Regions from separate parts of the Homo sapiens genome. Here all the other regions are linked to region 3. Evidence: fine-mapped expression QTL. A gene starts in region 3. Each other region holds a variant in brackets. All regions are shown on one strand. Distances are from middle to middle. Region 1 has its middle 120 kb from the start of LINC00326. Region 2 has its middle 26 kb from the start of LINC00326. Region 3 holds the start of EYA4 (EYA transcriptional coactivator and phosphatase 4). Region 4 overlaps EYA4 (EYA transcriptional coactivator and phosphatase 4).

Region 1 (2,621 bases), 280 kb after region 3:
AGTTTGAGCAGGTTGAGCACCCCAAATCTGAAAATCCAAAATCTGAAACACTCCAAATCCAAAACTTTTGAGCACCTATAGGTTACTCAAAGGAAATATTCATTGAGGCATTTTAGATTCTGGATTTCTGAACTTGGGATGCTCAACTGATAAGTATAATGCAAATATTCCAAAATCTGAATAAAACTTGAAAGCTGAAACACTTCTGGTGCCAAGCATTTCAGATAAGGGACACTCAACCTGTATATATACTCTGTATGCATATAGAGTGTGTGTGTGTGTGTATATATATATATATATATATGTATATGTATATATATATATATATGTATATGTATATATATATATATGTATATGTATATATATATGCATATACATACAGAGTATATATATATGCATATACATACAGAGTGTATATATATATACTCATATATATACACACATATAGAAGTTTAAATATATGCTTTTACTATATATAAGATTTCATATATATGTATATATGTGTATGCAGAGTATATATATGTGTGTGTGTATATATATTATATATATATTCTGTACAAATACACACTAACACACATACACTTAGGAACTCACTTTTAAAGATGGACTCCCAAAATATATAAAATCATGCACATAAGATCCTCAACCATCACATAGAATATTTATTATGTATTTATTAAGACTATTCCACCTAGTGGCATATGCATTTAATGCTCTCATTCCACAAAATGAAGTGCAGTGTTGAGATAACCATGATGATGCAGACAGAAACCCACATGTGCCTTTCAGGTAATGACTTTCTCTTGCTTGGAAAACTACAAAGTAAATTTGAAACCATGGGCAACACGGTGGCAGTCACATGGATAAGATTAAAAAAAAAAGAAGAGGAAGAACAGAAACATCAGGAGCCTTTAAGCTGTTTTCTAAATTCAGAATCACCAGAATATTTATGTTGGCAGCATCCCTTAACTCTCAGCAGGAGATTTGACAGAATGTACTCTATACATAACCCGCACAAGCCCCAGATCAAGGGGAGAGTATTTGCATAAACAGAATCCTAGAGACCATGTCATCACTATCTTTCTCTTCCTGCTTCTTCCTTCTCTACCCTACAAG[C/G]AGGTTGTATTGAGTTTCCTGGGCTACCTTCCATGAACATCAAGGAATGCAACAGAGATGAATGTTACATCGACACCAGCAGTGCCACCACAAGAGAAACTGTTTGTACACTCTTTTCATTTCTCAGTGCAAGCAAGCATCTAAAGACTTTGCACCTGTTCTAGTTAGCTCTGGCAAATGCAGTCTGTATTTATATTAATAGAATGATGTTTTCATAACAAAATGGACATGTAGGGATTGTGGCATTTACTTTGGATGCTCTCATATGTGTGCAGATTGGGAGAGGGATGACTGTTACATAAAGTCCCATGGCAAGGGAAGAAGACCCACACATCCCACACTGAATCATCAGGGGACAGTTTGAGAACCTTTTGTGGAATGACCAGAAACTCAAGTATTAGAAATTAAATTAGATACTTGATAAAGAGGGAAATAAGCTGGATATAAATGGGCTTTTCATGGGTAGTTTGAAACTATGAACTCTTTCGTGTTCCATCTCCTGTTTCTGTAATTTGTGTCTTATCTCTCCAGAGCAGAGCTGAGAACTGGTGAGATCATTTTTGGCTCCATTCCTGAAAGTTTGTTTTGAGTCACCAGTGTAAATATTGCCCACCCAATCCGTACATTTGCACAAATTAACTGAAACCAGCTACCCAATTCCTTGTTCATATTTGGATCTGTTGATTAACCCTGACAGCTGTAACCTCATTAGTCCAAGCTCTGGCCATAGCTGAGCAGCTGTCAAATTAGGAGGAAGTGGACTCACTGAGGTTGCCTCTATGGACCAGGCATGTTAAAATCAATAGGCGCTCTAAAAGGTTTCAGTTATGATTCTAATTCTAATTTATGTTGTGCTGTGGGCTCTTCACCTAGATCTATAATATGGCCCCGAAATTGGTTGTTTTTGAAGAAAGCAGGGGCTCTCTCACAAAGCGGGAACATAGGTTTTACCTGGAAGACACTGGGTCTGCATAGGTTGGAAATGGGTTTTTAGCATGCATTGTAACACAGACATTTTAATATATTTTAAAATATTAGTTTCTAATGTATTTTTTGGCAAGAGTGATTCTGTTAGTTTTGACAAGAGGCCAACAGTGTCCTGATCAGAGGAATAAGAAAGATCCTGCGGCTGGTACTCACTAGAAAATGGAGATAAGTAGGTAGGAAAGAGTTAGAAAACACTCCTATAGGAATGAGGTTTTCCTAACTAGAACACAAAGTTCTTGGGGTGAATTCTGTTCATTTCTATATGAATCTGTAAGGAGGAATTGGGAAGTGAACATTCACAGTATCTACTAATTAAAACCTGGATGTTCAGGGAAGGAGATCATTTTCCATCTGCCAAAGTGTTGAAAAGGACCCTGGGATAGGGTCAAACGCAATGTGTGAATTTTCTTGGCAGCATTTTCATCATGGGGCGATAGCAGGTTGGAGCAGAAGATGGTCTAAGAAAAATCTGGAGACCTCAGTCCTGGTCCCAGTTCTGCCGCAGTCTACTAGTATGG
Region 2 (2,621 bases), 180 kb after region 3:
AACTAGAAAAAATAATTATTATAAACATATACACATATGGGCTTTACTCATTAATTGCGCAAACATTCACTGACTAAGCACAAACTACCAGGCACAGTGCTAGGCACTGAGGATATGAAGGTGACAATATCTGCCTACTGAAATGTGTGGTAGTCTCAACTACATCTCAAGCCATCAGTGGGTTGACTGTTAGAAATCAGTGGATTTCTCTTCTGGATCTTTAGATAATGTGTCTGATCAATCTATTTCTTTCTCCTGAGCAGGTACTCTCATGTATGACTTTCCCATTTTACCAGCTTAATAAATGGTTCTCAGCCTGAGCAAACTGAAGCAAACTATTGGGCATTCCCATTTTCATTTCTGAAGTGACTGCTCAAATCTTTATTTCATTTTATGCCGATGCCTCGGGAGCTGACCTAGGATAAATGGAAGCTACCAACTGCCAACTGTGCTGTCAGCTGTGTGGCCGGGTCAAAGGTGCTGGCTGAGCTTGCAAATTCTGAAGGTTTGCCAGCAGTGAAGGTATTTGCCTTAGAGGGAAATGATGCCTTGTACATATCTCATCCCACAGTGCTGCTGAATGCGTCCATTTCAGGCAATGCCCAATTTGGAGAAAAGAAGAAGTGCAAAAAAAGATGTTTCTTTGACCTCACCGCAAATACGTAAAACCACCTGCAGATCCACAGCCACTCTAATCTTTGCCTTGGGCACACCCTTTTGCTTTAACAGTAGAGAAGAAACAAGTTTCTGTTCCCTCCGAGTGCTGGGAAGTGGCATGACAGCTGGTTTCCATGAGCAGAGCACATACTCCAACCCTGCAAAGAAAAAACTCCCCACAATGCTCTTTTATCTATTAAACTAAAGGGGGTTTTATTACACTTTTGTACATTCAATACATTTATCTAAATTTTTCTCGCATTGAATTATTGTCAAGAAAAGGCTGTTCTTGCATATATATATGTGTGTGTATATATATATGTACTTGTGATCATGCATAACTTAAATGCTAAATTTCTGATTTTTTTGGAGAGGATAACATTTAGAAAAAAATCTATTGACTAAACAAAAATCATTTGACACATGAGGTCAAACCTTAATTTAGCTGTAGGAATCATTGTCGTATCAATGTGGAAGTAGAAATAGCACTAAAAGAATGTTCTTTTTCTCCTGAAAGATGCACCCTCTGACCCACTTTGTGACACATAGTGAGGAGTTCAGTAACTATAAATGTTACCGATGACTCTTATCCTTGGTTTAACTCTGGGTTCTTCTAAATGCTTA[T/C]GTAGAGTACAAATTATCTGCTGAAGAGTAGCCAAGGTTGCCAAGTGAACAGCACTGAAGACGTCAGAAGGGAGTGAAGTTTGGAAGTGAAACAGCAGCCTTTAAATAGCCCGACAACACACATCATGAGATGACTTCAGTGGATCTCCCATCACTACGGATTGGCTGTAAAGGAAAAATCCTCTTAAGTGTTTAATCCAGAAGATAACTTTTTATTCAATTACTACCAGTATAATTACTATACTATTGTTCAAGATTTTATTCGTTCTTCCTTTTTTTGTCCACTTTGTCTTTTCTTCCTCTAGAAATTCAGAACCTGAATGATTTCTCATTTGAGTCAATTTTGATCACTGCAATCATTAAATTAGACATAATTTAGAAACTTCTAATGAAAAAAGAACATAATTAAGCCAAATTATCAGAAGTTTTAAGGATTGAAAATATTATCAAACAATTTTTAATAGTATTTTTTCTAATAAAAATTCTGAGACATTGGATGAATTAAGATCTATTGATATGAAAGAATGCTCATGTAACTATGGAAAAGAAATTAACATTTAGTTAGTGTTCTAATATGCCAAGCATTATGCATATTAAACTAAGCATTTTCCATATTTTTTCTCATTTACTCTTTTTTACTGCCTTACAAAATATGTGTTATTGTCCCCAGTCTACAGGGCAGAAAACTGGAAATTCACAAAGATTAAAGTATTCAAGTTTAGAAAGAAACTGTTTTTAAGTGACAGAATCCGGATTAAAATCCAGGTCTGCTGACCCCGAGGCTCTTTCTCTTTCCATTTTATCCCATAGGATTTTCCACTCAGCCAAAAATTGAACTTTAAATTTTTACATATTTTTAAATTTAAATATATTTTTCCTCATTAACAACAAAAAAATGGAAAAGAAGAATTATAATTGGTAACATTGACATCAATTTTTAAAAATATTTGTTTCATGCAATAATAAAAATTGTTTTTCTTTTAATAGTAAATGATTTGAGTGAAAAAGTTATCACCATTGTAAATAAAACATAGCTTAATTGACTTTAATATTGCTAGCAAAATTAAATTTGTACTAGGCTCATAGAATAAATAAAAAGTGCATGCATATTTGCCACATTTAATATAGAATGTTTTTTGTAATTTTCAATCTTTTTTGAGTATACTTGCCAAAGCTGTATTTATTTAAGCTGTACAATGTGGTGATTTGACATAGGTATTCACTGTGAAATGATTGTCAAAGTCAAACTAATGTACATATCCAATCACCAATCACCTCACATAGTTATGATTTTTTGTGTGTGGTGAAAACACTTCAGATCAACTCTCTTAGCAAATTTT
Region 3 (2,621 bases):
TCTGACAAGGCGCCTCTAATTTCACCGACCCTGGCAAACTGCAGGAGACATTCAGTCCACGCCACATAAAAACTATTAAAGTGGGATCGCCGCAGTTGAAAAGCCCGATCAGTGCCTGGAGATTAGAACGCGAGCCTTTAAAGTACACACGCACCCGGCACCGGGAAAGCCCAGGCGCCTGTGACCCTCCGAAGGACTCTGGGTCAGCATCCTCGCGCCTGGACCATCTAGGGGGTCATCAGAAAGTAATACACGTCATAAGAAAGATGTGGGGGAGACCCCGATGCTCGCGCCTCTGCCAGGTGGAGGCGGGGTGCAGGTAGAAGCCGCGCGCTGGACTGCTGGATGAACTCCGTTACGCGCAGGCTCCGCGCCGACCCCGGAAGGGACAGGCAGGCTCGGAAGGGACCCTTGGGGCTTGGGGACGTCTTCTAGGGCAGAGAGCACCGCTGCGGTCCGAGCGGCCCGGGCCCTCAGGCGTGGGGCACCCGGCCTCCAAGCGCCCCCCGGGGACGCAGGCGCCCACGCACCGTCCAGCTGCGCGTCCTCAGTACCCAGCGCTCGGCGTCCCCGGCGGAGCCTCGCGCACTTTCCCGGAAAGTTTGGGGGTTCTCTCAACTCAGGCTCCCCCGGGAGCCCTGGGGCGGGGGTTGGAAGAAGGGGTCACTCACCTCGTCGCCCGGTCCGCCTCGGGTTCCCGAAGTGTCTGTCCCAGCCGCGGTTCAGTGCGTCCGTAATTAAGTATTTATTCTCGTTCCTTCCAGTGTCGAAGTTTCCCCTTCGCGCTGTGCCTCTGGTGAAAACAGGACATCCCCTTCGGCCACCCCACAACAAATAGCGTACACAAGCGGGGGAGAAGCGGGGCGGAGGGAGAAGCCGGCTCCGAGGGGGAGGAGGAAAGGAGAGGAGCCAAAACTCCGGACTGCGACAGGGGGGAAAGGAGAAGAAAAGAAAATGAGAGAGCGCGCCCAGCCGCCGCAGTCGTCACTCCCCGGCTTTTCCCGCAGCTCTTTCCCCCTCTCTAAGGCAGCGACAACTTCACGTGGACAGGATGGAAGTTTTGCGCGGAAGCCGGGAACGGCCGGAGCGTGCGCCGCGCTGCCGGCAGCCTCGCACTTGCGCAGGGAGGTGGGGCGGGGGCGACGTCGCCACCGGCTACTGCGGGCTCGTGAGGCCGCCGGGGGCCTCGGGGGAGGCCGCCAGGGACGCGGGGGGCGGCGGCGCGCGGGGGACCCACTCCGTTTTTATTTGACCTCGGGTGACTGCCTATTGTCATGGTTTGCGATCTCGCGTGGGGACCGCCCAGGGCCTCGGGGCCCTGGATGTCCCGGGTGGCGCCGCCGTAATCTCCGTGCCCTCCGCGCCGCCCCCACCCCGCCCCCACCCGGGCCGACTCGAGCGGCTGCAGCCTCCAGGCTGAGGGGAGGGACCCGCGACCGCGCTCTCCTCCCTGGGCCGGAGAGCCACTGTCGATCCCCACCTGCTTCTGTGGGGCAGCCCCCGGAATTGCCTGGAACTCTCTCGCTACCCAGTTCCCCTGTGCAGGCCACTGCGGGCCCCCTGCCGGACTCCTTTCCACTTACCCCAAGGGAGGAGACAGAAGGGACTTCGCCTACTTGCAACAACGTGAAATAAAAACCAACCCAGACCAGACTGGGGCGCTTTTTCTGACGGGAGGAAATACCCTTTTCCGTGGAGATATATGTTATGAAGGACTAAGCGGTCTGGGGATAGGCTGTGCTGCGAAGGGCCTGGGCCCCTTCCAGTGCTGCTGGGTGCAGGTATAGGCATCCGTCCCAGACGCCCAAAGGTCAGGCAGCAACGACTTACTTCCAAGGCGGCGTCAGAGCTTCTCTAGGCACATTGCTGAAATGACATTTCGTGTCTAAGCCTTCTGCGCATGCACTACGCGACTACATAGGATTTACGATTTTATACCCACACGTGTGTATGCCACAACCAGGGGACACAGCAAAGGTAGACGGAATAAACAATCCATAAATTTTGCATCCATTTAATCACCTCTTCCAAAAACCTATTGTCTATTTTAGCGGCACCTTCTCTGTCATATTGATAATAAATGTTTTAATTTATTGATAAATCACTGAGTGTCAATCATTGTATTGGTCACTTATGGTACATGAGTTCATTTAACTTCCATGACAACTCTACGGTGGTCATTATTAAGCCGGTATAAAAGATGAGGAAACCAAAGCCCAAAGAATCATGAGTGACTTTTCCAAAGACAAATCCAGTGGTCTCTAATCACAAAGCCTATGATACAACAACCTCTACATTACCTTAGGTGTGGTCTAAGAGATTACAGATTAATCCGTAGAAATTACTCCCATTCAAAGAAAGTTTAGTTTTAATATATTCACTAAGTTACGTTCTGAAAAAGGTTCAGAAAAAAGATTTCATCCTCTACTTTAGGTTGGTCTTATGCAACTGATATGAGCACTGTCTAATTCAAAAGCAGTATCAACCCTGAATACTTATGGTTACAATTTATTTTTTAATGAGTGGGGAATTATCTACAATGCTTAAGAGGCTCTAGAAAAGGTGGTGTTGTAAATTTAAAATGATAAAGGCAGTCGTTGCTGCTCTCATCACTTACTGGG
Region 4 (2,621 bases), 51 kb before region 3:
TGACCAACAAATTTCTATCAACTGTGTTGTGTGACAGTGAGTGTCAAGTTCTTTTTTATACTTCATTATACTCAGACTGATCCTTAGTTTACTCTAATTACATCTATGAAATGACAGAGTTGGACTGTGTGATCTCTACTTGCTCTTCAAGCTTTAACATATAAACACTCTGCCAAAGGGTTGACATTCAGGAAAAGGACAAAAATATTTAAACAGACTTATTCAAATTTCTGGGGGTATAAATATGCATCTAGACATCTGAGACAAAAATATTGTTTAAAGATGCTTTAATGTTTTAAAAACATTAACACAAAAATTTTCCTTTTAGATCAACTCCTAAATTTGTTACTTTTCACAAACAAAGAGCAACCAGGGACTGAGAGTACATTTCTTCCCAATTTCCTTGTATAAATGTTGATACATTCAATGTGATGGAATCTAACAGCAAAGCAACTTCCCGTTTAAAATCCCAACATCAACATTCAATCCATGTTCATGTAATAAACACCCATATCCTAAGGCCTTCAATTAATTCCCTTAATGCTCAAGCTATTTGATATTAAGGGCTCAAGAATTAAAACAATGTACATATAATTCCAACAATTATGCAAGAATAAAACTAAGAAGAAAAATTACTCTGGCATTATGAAAATATTAAGCCTATTAAACCAGACGCAATTGGTGTAAAATTTACTCCTTTGAAGATTAGCAAATTGATTCAACATTCTAAAATAAGTATGCATAACCTGAAATTATCATGAGTGATTCCTGACTTACTTTTGCAGAGTAATTTTGTGCAACGGAATGTGTCTGCATCATCCAAAAATTAAGCAGATGCTATTACAGTAAGTTCCATATAAATGTCCAGTGGACAAGCACTCTGGAAAGGCCTCTTAACCACTGATAACAACTTACTTAACATAAACTTTTAAATACCTCTTAGGATTTTTCACAAAGATTTTCAGTCACAAATTATTGCCCTAGGATAGTATGCAAGTACTTTAATTTTGAAGGACTTTCAAAATCTAAAATATTAAGCAAACAAACGAAAAAAGGAAAAAAAAATCAGTCTAGCTGGGATCCCAGCCAATGAAAACTTTATTTCATGGAAAGAAAATAAGAAGTTCATAATCTCACAGTGAGGATG[G/A]AAACAATCACCCCAAACATGAATCAATGTGGATAATACTATGCAAATCACAGAAGAAAGGGGAAGCAGTCAGTCCTACAGAGAGTGAGCTGAGGTGACCACTTTTATAAGTGGCTAAAGGAAGAATCCTTGCATTGCTAGGAAGCTGGAGTTGGTAGCACCTTGGCACTATTTGCCTCTTTCATTTTATGAAAACGCTCCTAAAACTGAAGCTGCAAAGCCTTTTTATTTTGAACTTAGGAATCTTCAGCCTTACTTTCTTTAATATTAGCTTTATTACCACTTGTAACATCTACTCCATATTTTTCATTACTGAGCACCATAACGAAACTATGGCCTATATATGTAGTTAAGCAATATATAAAATCATGTTTATATCAATTTGCCAAAGATGTTTATTTAAAAAACACTGATTATATGCAGTAGTTATCAAATACATACATCTTATAAGATTTATGAAATAAACAGAAAATTCTTTGATGAAGGAGCTATTCAGACAAGAGTTAGCTAAAATAAGAAAATAAAGCTATAAAGATATCCCTAGGAATTTGGAAATAACTGTAAAATGCTTTTAAATCTTTGTTGAATAAATATTTTAACTTCCTGAATACAACTTAAGTCTATTGTTTAATTCCGGGTCAAAATGAAGTAACCCAAATATGCACTCTGTTACATAAAAGGCCCAGGGGATGAAATTACATCTCTCTCTAATAAGGTCCTTTGAAATCCTATACTACAGTAACTTAGCAGCCAAATTATTTTTCTTCTGTTAATGCTGATTGAGCAGTAAATAATAACTAGGAGAAAAACAAACATGCAAAATAAAGTTTTCACACCTTTGCTTGAGTTTTTTTAGATGACCCTGATCCACCAATTGTAGTAGAAACTCAAAAGCAATTATTTCATTAATCTTTATATATAGTAATAACTCACCACAGTTTTCAGGGAGGCTGGGGCTGATGTTAATTTCCAAATATTAAGAAACTTACACAAAAGTATGCTTTCAAATTTGTGTGAAGGTTGGAACGAATCAAAAAACCTCATTTCAAAACAAAGTGTTGTTGTTAATGTTCTCACTCTGCTTAAACCCTTTCAGTCTCCATTTTTGCATCTGTTAAACTAACGTAAAGGATTTGGACAGCATAATCTCTAAAGGTCCTACCACCTAGTAAACTAGTCCTGGAGCCCTCTGTATCAAGCATGGCAATACGAAAAGGAGATTAAGTGGGCAAGGCATTTAATTGAAACAAATGAGAGTGTGCTCTATTTAGAATCTCCCTAAAAACCCTGGTGTAGAAAAACCATTACAGACTCCAAATCTCACCTAACTCCTCCCCTTTTTTCTTCACATTAGCAGATTGAAAAATAAATATAGTCTAGGTTGTTGTCTACCCCTTTCACATCATGTCTGATACAACAGACTGTAAATCAAAGAAAATGTTAATAGGGGAAAATAAACCCATATCAAATTTTT

What was found.
Region 1: its variant is fine-mapped to the expression of EYA4 in esophagus muscle (GTEx, PIP above 0.99).
Region 2: its variant is fine-mapped to the expression of EYA4 in left ventricle (GTEx, PIP above 0.99).
Region 4: its variant is fine-mapped to the expression of EYA4 in lung (TOPMed, PIP above 0.99).

Annotation. Positions count from the first base shown.
Region 1 is chr6:132,963,424-132,966,044 of GRCh38, reverse strand. No RefSeq gene overlaps it. Among named protein-coding and RNA genes, the nearest start is that of LINC00326, 120 kb to the left of the region's middle. The variant C/G (reference allele first, on the strand shown) is at 1,117.
Region 2 is chr6:133,060,991-133,063,611 of GRCh38, reverse strand. No RefSeq gene overlaps it. Among named protein-coding and RNA genes, the nearest start is that of LINC00326, 26 kb to the left of the region's middle. The variant T/C (reference allele first, on the strand shown) is at 1,282.
Region 3 is chr6:133,239,800-133,242,420 of GRCh38, reverse strand. It overlaps EYA4 (EYA transcriptional coactivator and phosphatase 4), which reads right to left and starts at 1,064. Exons shown (of 20, transcript NM_004100.5): 1 at 672-1,064. LOC124901231 (serine/arginine repetitive matrix protein 1-like) reads left to right here. Exons shown (of 3, transcript XM_047419612.1): 2 at 10-202; 3 at 765-2,101. The coding sequence ends at 1,635. RefSeq lists an enhancer at 1-721.
Region 4 is chr6:133,290,381-133,293,001 of GRCh38, reverse strand. The region is part of intron 2 of EYA4 (EYA transcriptional coactivator and phosphatase 4); the gene reads right to left. Among named protein-coding and RNA genes, the nearest start is that of EYA4, 50 kb to the right of the region's middle. The variant G/A (reference allele first, on the strand shown) is at 1,148.